3 linked regions of the Homo sapiens genome follow. The protein of the gene in region 2 interacts with the protein of the main gene of each other region in a pairwise test. Each region holds a gene or a part of one and is shown on either strand. Other genes may lie near its edges.

Region 1 (3,653 bases), on a different chromosome or scaffold from region 2:
AATAGTTTTTTATGCTAAAGTCTCTGAACAAAACTCATCAATTCAAGGTACTTAAACTACAAACTATTTTCTATTTTTTTCACACCTGCAACAGTAACAAAAAAAAGATGCGTTTCCTGGTCAATAACCTGGAACTTATTCTATCGAGAAAAAAAAAAATGAAAGAAACTATGGAACTTTTTATATTACTAGTGTTCTGCTCGATAGTTTTAAAACATTATTTTTTAATTGACAAATATCTACTTTACTTTTTTTTTTTTTTTTGACACGGAGTCTTGCTGTGTCGCCCAGGCTGGAGTGCAGTGGCGTAATCTTGGCTCACTGCAACCTCCGTCTCCCAGGTTCAAGTGATTCTCCTGCTTCAGCCTCCTTAATGGCTGGGATTACAGGTGTCTGCCACCACGCCCAGCTAATTTTTGTGTTTTTAGTAGAGATGGGGTTTCACCACGTTGGCCAGGCTGGTCTCGAACTCCAGACCTCAGGTGATCAGCCCATCTCGGCCTCCCAAAGTGCTGCGATTACAGGAGTGAGTTACCACGCCCGGCTTACATTTCAATCATGTTATGTTAGGTCATTTCAACATGTGGTTTAAGAACAAGATTTGATCAATAATATAACAATCTGGATTAAAAGAACTCTTCACAGAAAATTCTAATGATAGTCAACATTTGATAATTTGCCCAAATATAATGAAGTTATTAATGTCTTCAGTTTTAACAGAAGTATTTAACAAAAATACTCACCCTCCTGTGCCAATGGATCTCTTTTGATGGTTTTTCGAATCATAATAGCGCTGTAGGATCATAGCACTTCTGCTTTTCAAATATCCAGTCTCCACCTCAATATAGTTCTCCAAATAGGAAATGAAAATGGATTTGATAAGCTTAGACAAGAAAGTCTGTTTATCAGTACCTAAATTAAACTCCATCAGCTTGCTGGAAAGATTGGTGGTTCTTTTCATGAAAAAGGGGGAGAAAAAGATTAATATACATTTTAGGTATAGTAACAATATTAAGGAATACAAATTTTTACAACGTGACTTTCATGACTTATGTTAAGCCACCATTTCTTAAACTCTGGGAGAGTACTTATGATGCAGAGATCAACTCTACAGGGTTACATATAAATACAGTGAAATATTACGAACAACTTTACGGTTTTGAGAACTGTTATAAATTCCTAGGAAAAGAACTTGTGAGGCAATTAACTAGTCCAGAAATGGCGACAGTGGCAGATTGGCCTCAAGTATGTCTAATGCCATTCATCACATGGGACCCAAAACAGAGTACTGAAAGATCTACTGTCTGTTCACCCTCTTTTGTTTTGTCCTTGTGGACTTTCCCTCTAATTTTCTATTTCCCATTGCTGAAGATAGGGTCATAACAGTGTTGTTGTTGAGATGGACTTCCTCATTACGGTAACTTTGGAAAAACCTTCTCCCAAAATGAAGACACTGAAGAAGAGTAATAGGGTTGGGAAAAGTCAAGGAAAAAAAAAACCCCACAAGACTCCATATGAAGCTTCTGAGACAATCTCTAAGAGTAACACTGACATTTACAAAAGCACAAGACAAATTCCTACAGAAGATTTAGAGCTGAAATTGTCATTTGTTAAGATTACATCACTTCCTTTTGCAGTTTCTAAAGTTTTGACTGCAGATAAATGTAATTACACTAATGCTTAGAGAAAAAATAAAGCATAACATCCAATTCCTGACGTTAATGTATTAAGAATGTTGTACAATACAGTCTTGTACAATATAACTAGTCTATACAGCTAAGCATTTAATGCTAAAAGGTAAACTGGTGACAAACTTATTCAAAAATACCTGAATACTTCCTTGTTTTTATCAAAAAAATTTAAAAAATCTGTTATCTATTATTTTCTAATCATTAAAAATTTACCTTGTATACAGATCATAGAGATTTTTGAGATATTGCTCTGCATCGGACTTCCTACATTCTTCTAACTGCTCTTTCACAAAACTCTAAAAGAAAAAGGTTAACATTCTGTTAATTAGGTAAATATTAAATTCTACAACTTCTCAAGATATTTTTCTTTTAAAATTCACTCCACAGTTTTGAACCTTTCTGACTTACAATCCAATCAAAAAGGCAATTACAGAAAACAAACCAATCATAAAATATTTTAAAACAGGTTTTTACATTTTACCACTTCTCATATTTACCTGTAGAGGATCTTTATCAGTCTTAGGAATAATACCTTTTCTGTTAAATTGGCCTATTCTGCTCTGTGAGGTGCATCAAAAAAACAAAACTGAGAGTACAAACAATAGAGTCAATTCCTTAAGGCAGCATCTCCCAAACTGAGTTCCAGGTAACACTAGTGTTCCTTCAGATGTCTATAGGCATTACTCCAAAACAGGGTTTCTTAGACAGTAAATGTGTGAAATGCTGTACATTACATCCCCACTTCTAGAGAATGACAATACTATCAAAATTCCTGAATTGTGTTAAAAAAAAAAAAAAGCAAACATTTATTGAATGTTGTTTAATCCAGTTGTAAACAGCTTAGGAAATGTTATCTGAAAGTACAGTGATATGGGGGTAAATTAAATTTCTGTGTTTTCCCTTTTCAGGTTAGTACCATATTATTAAAAATTCTACAGACTGCTCTTGTAATTCTTGTTCAGTTTCACAAATGACATCTATTGGTGAAGGCAGGGACCAAAAAAAAAGAAAAATCTTCAAGGCTATCTTACCACAATATATTATACTACTACTACGAATACTACACAAATTTCAAGCATGTTCTCTGATGATACTTATTGATTAGCACTTTCTTCTTGGTGAATACAAAACATTTTTTAAAAAGCATGAGGATTCCTTTCTCCTTAACTAGATTACTATTTCTAAGGTCATTACATAAGTAAACTAAATTTTAAAAATACTTTTAAAATATAGGGAAAAAATTACATATTGCTTTAAGAACTATTTAATTTGTTACTATTTAAAATTACCTGTAGTTTGATTTCAAATACATTTTGAATAAGTTTAGCCAGGACTGTTTCTGGATTACTGAAGATATCTCCAACTTGTTTGTTCACTCTTTGACAGAGTATTCCAGCGTCTTCAAATATATCATTTCTCAAATAAGCACCCTAAACAGCAGAGACATTTTATACAGTGAACATATAATTTCTACATGATTTTAAAACAACAATTAGCATAAAATAATATCCAACAAAGTGTACTGTTATGTTACCTCCTGGCACTGCTTTATATAAACATCAACACAATGGGAATAACCCTACAAGGAAGAAACACATTGTTATTATTCTGATTCAATTATAATAATTATTATTTCAAAAAAAGAAGTGTTATATGTCATAAAGCTATGACTATTTACCAGTAAATGGCCAATAGCAACACCTGTTGGACTTAAATAAAATTAACTGCAGAAAACCAGTAACTTGATAAAGGTATCGTCTCCCTAGTCACTTTCTATGATAAAATTTATCAGTTGGTACATATCCTTGTTGAACTTTAGACTAAAACAAGAAAGATGAAGTATGTAACTGAGTTCTTTAGAGTAATTTTTGTCCTATGATCATCTAGCCATCTCCTTCAACTCCAAAACACACCCACTCACACCCACCCACACACATACACACAAACACACACATACACAGA
Region 2 (3,653 bases):
GCCTTGCACTGTGGGGCTCCAGGGGTTCCTTTCAGGCCCAGGAACCAAGGGGAGAATTGAGATCTCAGAGCTGTTTGGAGTGGGGTGAGTAGGCCTCCAGGGAGAACTGAGGCATTGGTGTGGCTAGTAATGTGGGCCAGCCCTACAGTCTCATGCCAGCACAGGGCTCAGAGATCAGGCGCACTCACCCTCAGCAATGGCGCCCAGCACCAGGATGCCCGACTCCTTGACCACCCACTCGGGGTGGAAGAGGAGGCCTTTGAGTAGTGGGAGTAGGTGGGGCAGCAGTTCCTCCCGGAAGACATTGGCGAGGACGTCCAGTGCAGCCGCTGAGCACTTCCCTGGGGAAGGGGGAACAATGGGGAGGCTCAGGGCGGCCCCTCAGGCAGGTGGCCGACCCTCCTTGACTGCACTCCCAGGATCAGAGATCATGCTCAGAATCTTCACGATCAGCTTCTTTTTTTTTGTTTTGTTTTTTTGAGACGGAGTCTCACTTTTTCCGCCCAGGCCGGAGTGCAGTGGCGCTATCTCGGCTCACTGCAAGCTCCGCCTCCTGGGTTCATGCCGTTTTCCTGCCTCAGCCTCCCGAGTAGCTGGGACTACAGGCGCCCGACACCACGCCCGACTAATTTTTTGTATTTTTAGTAGAGACGGGGTTTCACTGTGTTAGCCAGGATGGTGTTGATCTCCTGACCTCGTGATCCGCCCGCCTCAGCCTTCCAAAGTGCTGGGATTACAGGCGTAAGCCACTGCGCCCGGCCACGATCAGCTTCTAATCAGCTTCTGCCTCAGCTTCTAGTCACCTCCCAAGAGGGAGTCCAGGGCTTGCCACCCCACCACCACCCCCAGGCAGGGGCACACACTCAAATTCCAGTCGGACAGAGCATCATCATCATCGTCATCCTCCGCGTCCTCGGAGCCATCAGGCCGCTCAGCCTCGTGGGGCAGTGTGACCGTGCGTGACTTGTGGAAGCGTGGCTTGATGTCCTGCTCACTGTCGGGGACAGCCTCATCCTCCTCCACATCCCCCTGGGGGACAGGCAGACTGTTAAGTACTTTGGGGACCACAGCCGCGACACCCACGCCCATGCCCACCCATGCTGGGTGGGCCCTGCCTGACCTTGAGCAGGATGATGTCAATTTCCGAGTACTTCATCCCATTCACCAAGATGGGGATCAACCTGCACAGAGAGGGACTGTTTATGGGGATGCAGGGGCCGTGGCAAAAGTTGGGGGGAGGCACAGCTTGGGGAGGAGGCAAACAGGTGCCAACAGAGTGACCAGCCCCCCAATCAGCCACAGAGCAGACCCTGCAGAGCATGATGGTACTGCTAGGTGCAAATTGATCCATTTCCCTCTGGGGAATTATCGGAATCTAGTCTCTGCCGCTATGATTAGGATATAAATGATACCACTCCTGCCTCCAGAGAAAGGTTTTTTTTTTTTTTTCTTAAGAAGCAGGGTCTAACCCTGTGGGCGGCAAGCCACCCAGGCACCGAGGCAAGAGACAGAGGACACGAGCTGTTCCAGTATAATAAAATATAAAACAAGAATAGTTATACCAGATATAGATCTTAGATATGATTATATATGAATATCATTAATCATTAGTTTGTAGCAATTACTTTTTATTCCAATATTATGATAATCCTCGCTCTATAATCATAGCCTAGGAAAAACCAGGCCATACAGAGATAGGAGCTGAGGGGACATAGTGAGGTGTGACCAGAAGACAAGAGTGCGAGCCTTCTGTTATGCCCGGACAGGGCCACCAGAGGGCTCCTTGGTCTAGCGGTGACGCCAGCATCTGGGAAGACGCCCGTTACCAGGCGGATCATGGTCCAGCGGTAGCAAAAGGTGTCAAGGAACAACACCCGCTACTTAGCAGACCAGGAAAGTGGGGGAGTCTCCCTTTCCCCGGGGGAGTTTAGAGAAGACTCTGCTCCTCCACCTCTTGTGGAGGGCCTGACATCAGTCAGGTTTGCCCGCAGTTATCCGGAGGCCTAACCGTCTCCCTGAGATGCTGTGCTTCAGTGGTCACACTCCTAGTCTGCCTTCATGTTCCATCCTGTACACCTGGCTCTGCCTTCCAGATAGCAGTAGTAAATTAGTGAAAATACTAATAGTCCCTGATATGCAGAAATAATGGCATACGCTGTCTTTCTCTTTGTCTACTCTCCCTCTCTGCCTCGGCTGCCAGGCAGGGAAGGGCCCCCTGTCCAGTGGACACGTGACCCATGTGACCTTACCTATCATTGGAGGTGACTCACATTCTTTACCCTGCCCCTTCTGCCTTGTATGCAATAAATAACAGCGCAGCCAGACATTTGGGGTCACTACCGGTCTCCGCGCATTGGTGGTAGTGGTCCCCCGGGCCCAGCTGCCTTTTCTATTATCTCTTTGTCTTGTGTCTTTATTTCTACACTCTCTCATCGCCGCACACAGGAAGAGACCCACCGACCCTGTGGGGCTGGTCCCTACGTAACCCTATCACCCAGGCTGGAGTGCACTGGTGCGATCACAGCTCACCACAGCCTCATGCTCCTGGGCTCATGCAATCCTCCTGCCTCAGCCTCCCAAAGTGCTAGGATTATAGGCGTGAGCCATGGCACTCAGCCTGCAGGAAAGCTCTTGACCCAGGCCTGGCCACTCAGTGGATTATAGACCCCTGAATACACTGAAAATCTTGGTACAGTGCCTGGTCCCTAGCACAACATTAAGGCAGGGACATGCGGTCCTATTCCTGGCCACTTTCCTGAGATAGGGCAGAGACTAGCCAGAGTAGGGGAGCAAACAGACTAGGCAGCCAGCCCCTCAGCTGCAGCCCAGAGTTGTAAGTGACAGAGCCTTCATCACCTGCTCATCTAGGTCTCATCACTCCCCAGGAGCCGTCTGCCCAGCCCTAGACTGTTATCAATAATTTGGGGCCGGGCACAGGGGCTCACACCTGTCATTATAGCACTTTGGGAGACCAATGCAGGAGGATTGCCTGAGCCCATAAGTTTGAGACCAATTGGGACAATATAGTGAGACCTCACCTCTAATGAATGATAAATAAATAAATAAATAAATAAATAAATAAATAAACATACAATATGCTGGGCGTGGTGACTCACGCCTGTAATCCTAGCACTTTGGGAGGCCAAAGTGGGCAGAACACAAGGTCAGGAAGCTGAGGCAAGAGAATCGCTTGAACCCGAGGGGCGGAGGTTGCAGTGAGCCGAGATTGTGCCACTGCCCTCCAGCCTGGGCAGCAGAGTGAGACTCCGTCTCAAAAACAGAAATTTCAAAATAATAATAATAATGATCTGGGGGCTGGGTACAGTGGCTCGCACCTGTAATCTCAACACTTTAGGAGACCAAGACAGGAGGACTGCTTGAGGCCAGGGATCCGAGACCAGCCAGAGCAACTTAGCAAGACCTCATCTCTACTAAAACTTAGAAAAGATTAGCTAGGTGTGGTGGGATGTGCCTGTAATCCCAGCTACTTGGGAGGCTGAGGTAGGAGGATTGCTTCAGCTGGGAGGTCAAGGCTGCAGTGAGCCATGATTTTGACACTCCACTCCAGCGTGGATGACAGAGCAAAACCTTGTCTCAAAATAAAAAAGAAAAAAATGATTTGGAGAGAGGCAAGCAATCCAAGTTTGTCAAGG
Region 3 (3,653 bases), on a different chromosome or scaffold from region 2:
AGAAAGTAGAGGGCTCAACCCTTTATTATATTTATTTGACTTCCTAGAAATAATTTTAAATATAATTAGTGACAAGGAATAAAGTTCACATCTGTAACAATTGAAAATGGAATGTACAAACAAGACCGGACAGACAGACAATGCTACTGGCAGTACGATCGGCAACCAACGCACACACACTGAATGAAGCTCAGCTCCTAATGAGAGTCAGGAACTCTTCCCGAGTCTTTGGATCCTCCCGGAACACACCCAACATTGTGCTGGTCACAGTTTTGCTGTTCATTTTCTGTACACCTCGCATTACCATACACATGTGTCTACAAAATAAGGCAACACAGGTTGTTTAAAGGAGTAGACAGCTGCTGGTTTGGTTTTTAAAAGCAGGCCTAAAGATTAAATCTCAGCTCACAGTTACCAAGTATATCGAAATATCCCTTCTTACACAAATGTTATCTATTAGGTTCATGCAAAAGTAACTGCGGTTCTTGCTATTGAACATAATGGCAAAAACTGCAATTATCTTTGCAGCAACCTAAACTTTTTGTTCTTGAAGTTGTCTTGCAACTTTTATTTTTATCAGTAGTTGATCCTTAAAGCATCCAAAAAGGGGAAAAATGGAATTTTCTTCTGGGGTGAAAGTAATATAAAAGGTCTACAGAGTTACTTAACTTCTAGATCAAAAGAAAGTCAGAATTCTCACTTGCTCTGCCTTCAGGACCAAGACAGCACTATGCTAGCCTAGGTGTTCAGATAAATGCTCAAGTATACTGATGTCACCAGGCAGAATTCAGATAATGGTGACCAGAGATCCTGTCTGAGCAACCTGGTGACATTAGATACCAGACATAGAACAGAGTTCACACCACGTCACAGAACACATATGAACTTTGTCCACACAACAGCTGCAATTCTCTTAACTCATCCTAACTTAAAGAAATGTACCAATTCTTGGCTTTATTTTTTAAATGTGTGACAAAATATTAGAAAAACTCGGCTTGGAGCAACAGAGAGCTAAAGAAGAAATCAAGAGAAGACATAAAATCAAGAGAAGACATAAAAATGGCTATTGGCGTGGTGGCTCACGCCAGTAATCTCAGTATTTTGGGAGGCTGAGGTGGGCAGATCACTTGAGGTCAGGAGTTTGAGATCCCCAGCCTGGCCAACATGGTGAAATCCCATCTCTACTAAATACGAAAATTAGCTGGGTGTGGTGGCGGGCACCTGTAATCCCAGCTATTTGGGAGGCTGAGGCAGGAGAATCGCTTGAACCTGGGAGGCAGAGGTTGCAGTGAGCCAAGATCACACCATTGCACTCCAGCCTGGGTGAGAGAGCAAGACCCTGTCTTGAGCATTTTTAAAAAATGGCGATTGAGCTGGGCGCAGGGGCTCACGCCTGTAATCCTAGCACTTTGGGAGGCCGTGACGGGTGGATCATGAGGTCAGGAGTTCGAGACCAGCCTGGCCGACATGATGAAACCCCATCTCTATTAAATATACAAAAATTAGCCGGGCATGGTGACACACACCTGTGGTCCCAGCTACTCGGGAGGCTGAGGCAGGAGAATCGCTTGAACCCGGGAGGTGGAGGTTGCAGTGAGCCGAGATTGCACCACTGCACTCCAGCCTGGGCGACAGAGTGAGGCTCCATCTCAAAAAAAAAAAAGGCTATTGATTATGCAAATCTCTACACCTGTGCTTTTAACTCCCTATGCCTCCACAAGCCCCATCCTACCCTCAAAAAATACTTCTCCCATATTCTGTTCCTATATCAGTAACAGTAAATGAAAGTGGTAAAAGAGCTTTAGGCTCAGGGATGGAAATCTACAGTTATCATATCAGTTGTGTGGCATCACCTGGTGCTACAAAATATGAGAAGCACTAAATAGCAAGATCACTTCTAGTGCACCATTATGACGTTACTAAAGGCAGATGCAGACTTACGTTGCTTCAACCACTACCCCGACTCCAGCAGGCCGCAAGGCTTCCGTGATTGCTACAGCAATTTGTTTTGTAAGGCGCTCCTGAACTGTGGATGTGATAAGGAGCTCAGTTTGAGAGTCTGACACAAACAGCTGGAAGCTTTTTCTGTCTCTAGAACATTTGAAATCTTAAAAATCAGACTTCTGTGAGATTTAAGAGCCAAGACACACCAGCTTTTACCAGACTGCTTTGTCTGCTGACTGGGCCACAGAGAGGCCCGGATTCAACTCCCTCACCTGAAGTACAGGGCTAAAGAGATCTCAGAACACCCTGAAGCCCTCCAGCATCACTGCGGGAAGGAATTAGAATAGCAATTATCTCATACCTGTGCAGTTAGAACAACACAGTACTGGTTACCAAGCACCTCCATGGAGGTAAAGTAGTGCAGCAAATAAATAGCCTGCAACAGGGTTAACAAAGGGGCTGCAGTCCAATTATTGAATTGTGCTTAGAGCAATGTTGAAAACCAACAATTTAACCTAAATAATATAGTTCCTGTCCTGAATAAAATGACTTGTCTTTTAATTCATACAGGAATATTCATTGCAGCACTGCATCTATTTGAAAACTGATGAAACCCCCCAGTATCTATCAGAGCTGGTATAGGTTACGCCAAGCCATGGCATATACGGTAGGATTCTAGACAGCCACCAGAATGAATGAGATAGTTACATGGATGTGGCAAAAATGTTTAAGATTTGTTAAATGAAAAAAAGCAGGGAAAAAAGCAAGGCTGATTATGTATAAAATGAGCCCATTTTTGTTTAAACATAATCCAAATAAATTGATTTGAAAATGCAGGTATATGCATGAAAATGTGAAGGAATGTGCAAATACAACAGTGATTTCTTCTGGAAGCTTGAAACAGTAGACTTTTTATAGTCCTAAGAGGTTTTACATTTTTATAAGTCATACTTATCGCACTAGTAATAAAACAAAAAATACTTTTTGTGTAGGAAAAATGTTTTCTGTAGCCAGGCACAGTGGCTCATGCCTGTAATCCCAGCACTTTGGGAGGCCAAGGTGGGCAGATCACCTGAGGTCGGAAGTTCGAGACCAGCCTGATCAATATGGTGAAACCCCGTCTCTACTAGAAATACAAAAATTAGCCAAGGCATGGTGATGCACTCTTATAATCTCAGCTACTTGGAAGGCTGAGGCTGCAGTGAGCCGAGATTGCACCACTGCACTCCAGCCTGGGTGACAGAGCAAGACTCTGTCTCAAAAATAAAAATTTAAAAAAAGAAAAAAAAGAAAAATGTTTTCTGTTAATACAGATTTTTAAAGCTTACCTTGTAGTCTTCTACTATAGATTTCTACAATCCTAGAAAAGAAAGAATTGTTTTAGTTAATCACAAATCATTTGAAGTAAAATTGATAAGCCTTCCTCATAAAACAAAAAGGACATTGTTGAAGCAAGTGGGCTGCAAGAGGAAATAAAGCTTATGGCAAGATGACAGAAAGATACAAGTACCACAGGGAGATGTAGTCTAAAGTCAACTTGATTGGATTGAAGGATGCAAAGTATTGTTCCTGGGTATGCCTGTGAGGGTGTTGCCAAAGGAGATTAACATTTGAGTCAGTGGGCTGGGAAAGGCAGACCCACACTTAATCTGGGTGGGCACAATCTCATCAGCTGCCAGCGAATACAAAGCAGGCAGAAATATATGAAA

What was found.
Region 1: the proteins of TNPO2 (region 2) and EXOC5 interact in binary tests that used the Homo sapiens proteins (3 or more experiments, as listed by UniProt).
Region 3: the proteins of TNPO2 (region 2) and GCH1 interact in binary tests that used the Homo sapiens proteins (3 or more experiments, as listed by UniProt).

The regions. Positions count from the first base shown.
Region 1 is NC_000014.9:57,230,763-57,234,415, forward strand, and holds part of EXOC5 (exocyst complex component 5), read right to left. Parts: intron 3,271-3,653; coding exon 3,226-3,270; intron 3,122-3,225; coding exon 2,981-3,121; intron 1,988-2,980; coding exon 1,905-1,987; intron 954-1,904; coding exon 744-953; intron 1-743. UniProt on the Homo sapiens protein: Component of the exocyst complex involved in the docking of exocytic vesicles with fusion sites on the plasma membrane.
Region 2 is NC_000019.10:12,710,433-12,714,085, forward strand, and holds part of TNPO2 (transportin-2), read right to left. Parts: intron 1,182-3,653; coding exon 1,121-1,181; intron 1,030-1,120; coding exon 864-1,029; intron 342-863; coding exon 189-341; intron 1-188. UniProt on the Homo sapiens protein: Probably functions in nuclear protein import as nuclear transport receptor. Serves as receptor for nuclear localization signals (NLS) in cargo substrates.
Region 3 is NC_000014.9:54,843,827-54,847,479, forward strand, and holds part of GCH1 (GTP cyclohydrolase 1), read right to left. Parts: intron 3,305-3,653; coding exon 3,273-3,304; intron 2,027-3,272; coding exon 1,942-2,026; intron 318-1,941; coding exon 191-317; 3' UTR 44-190; coding exon of another isoform or gene 1-43. UniProt on the Homo sapiens protein: Positively regulates nitric oxide synthesis in umbilical vein endothelial cells (HUVECs). May be involved in dopamine synthesis. May modify pain sensitivity and persistence.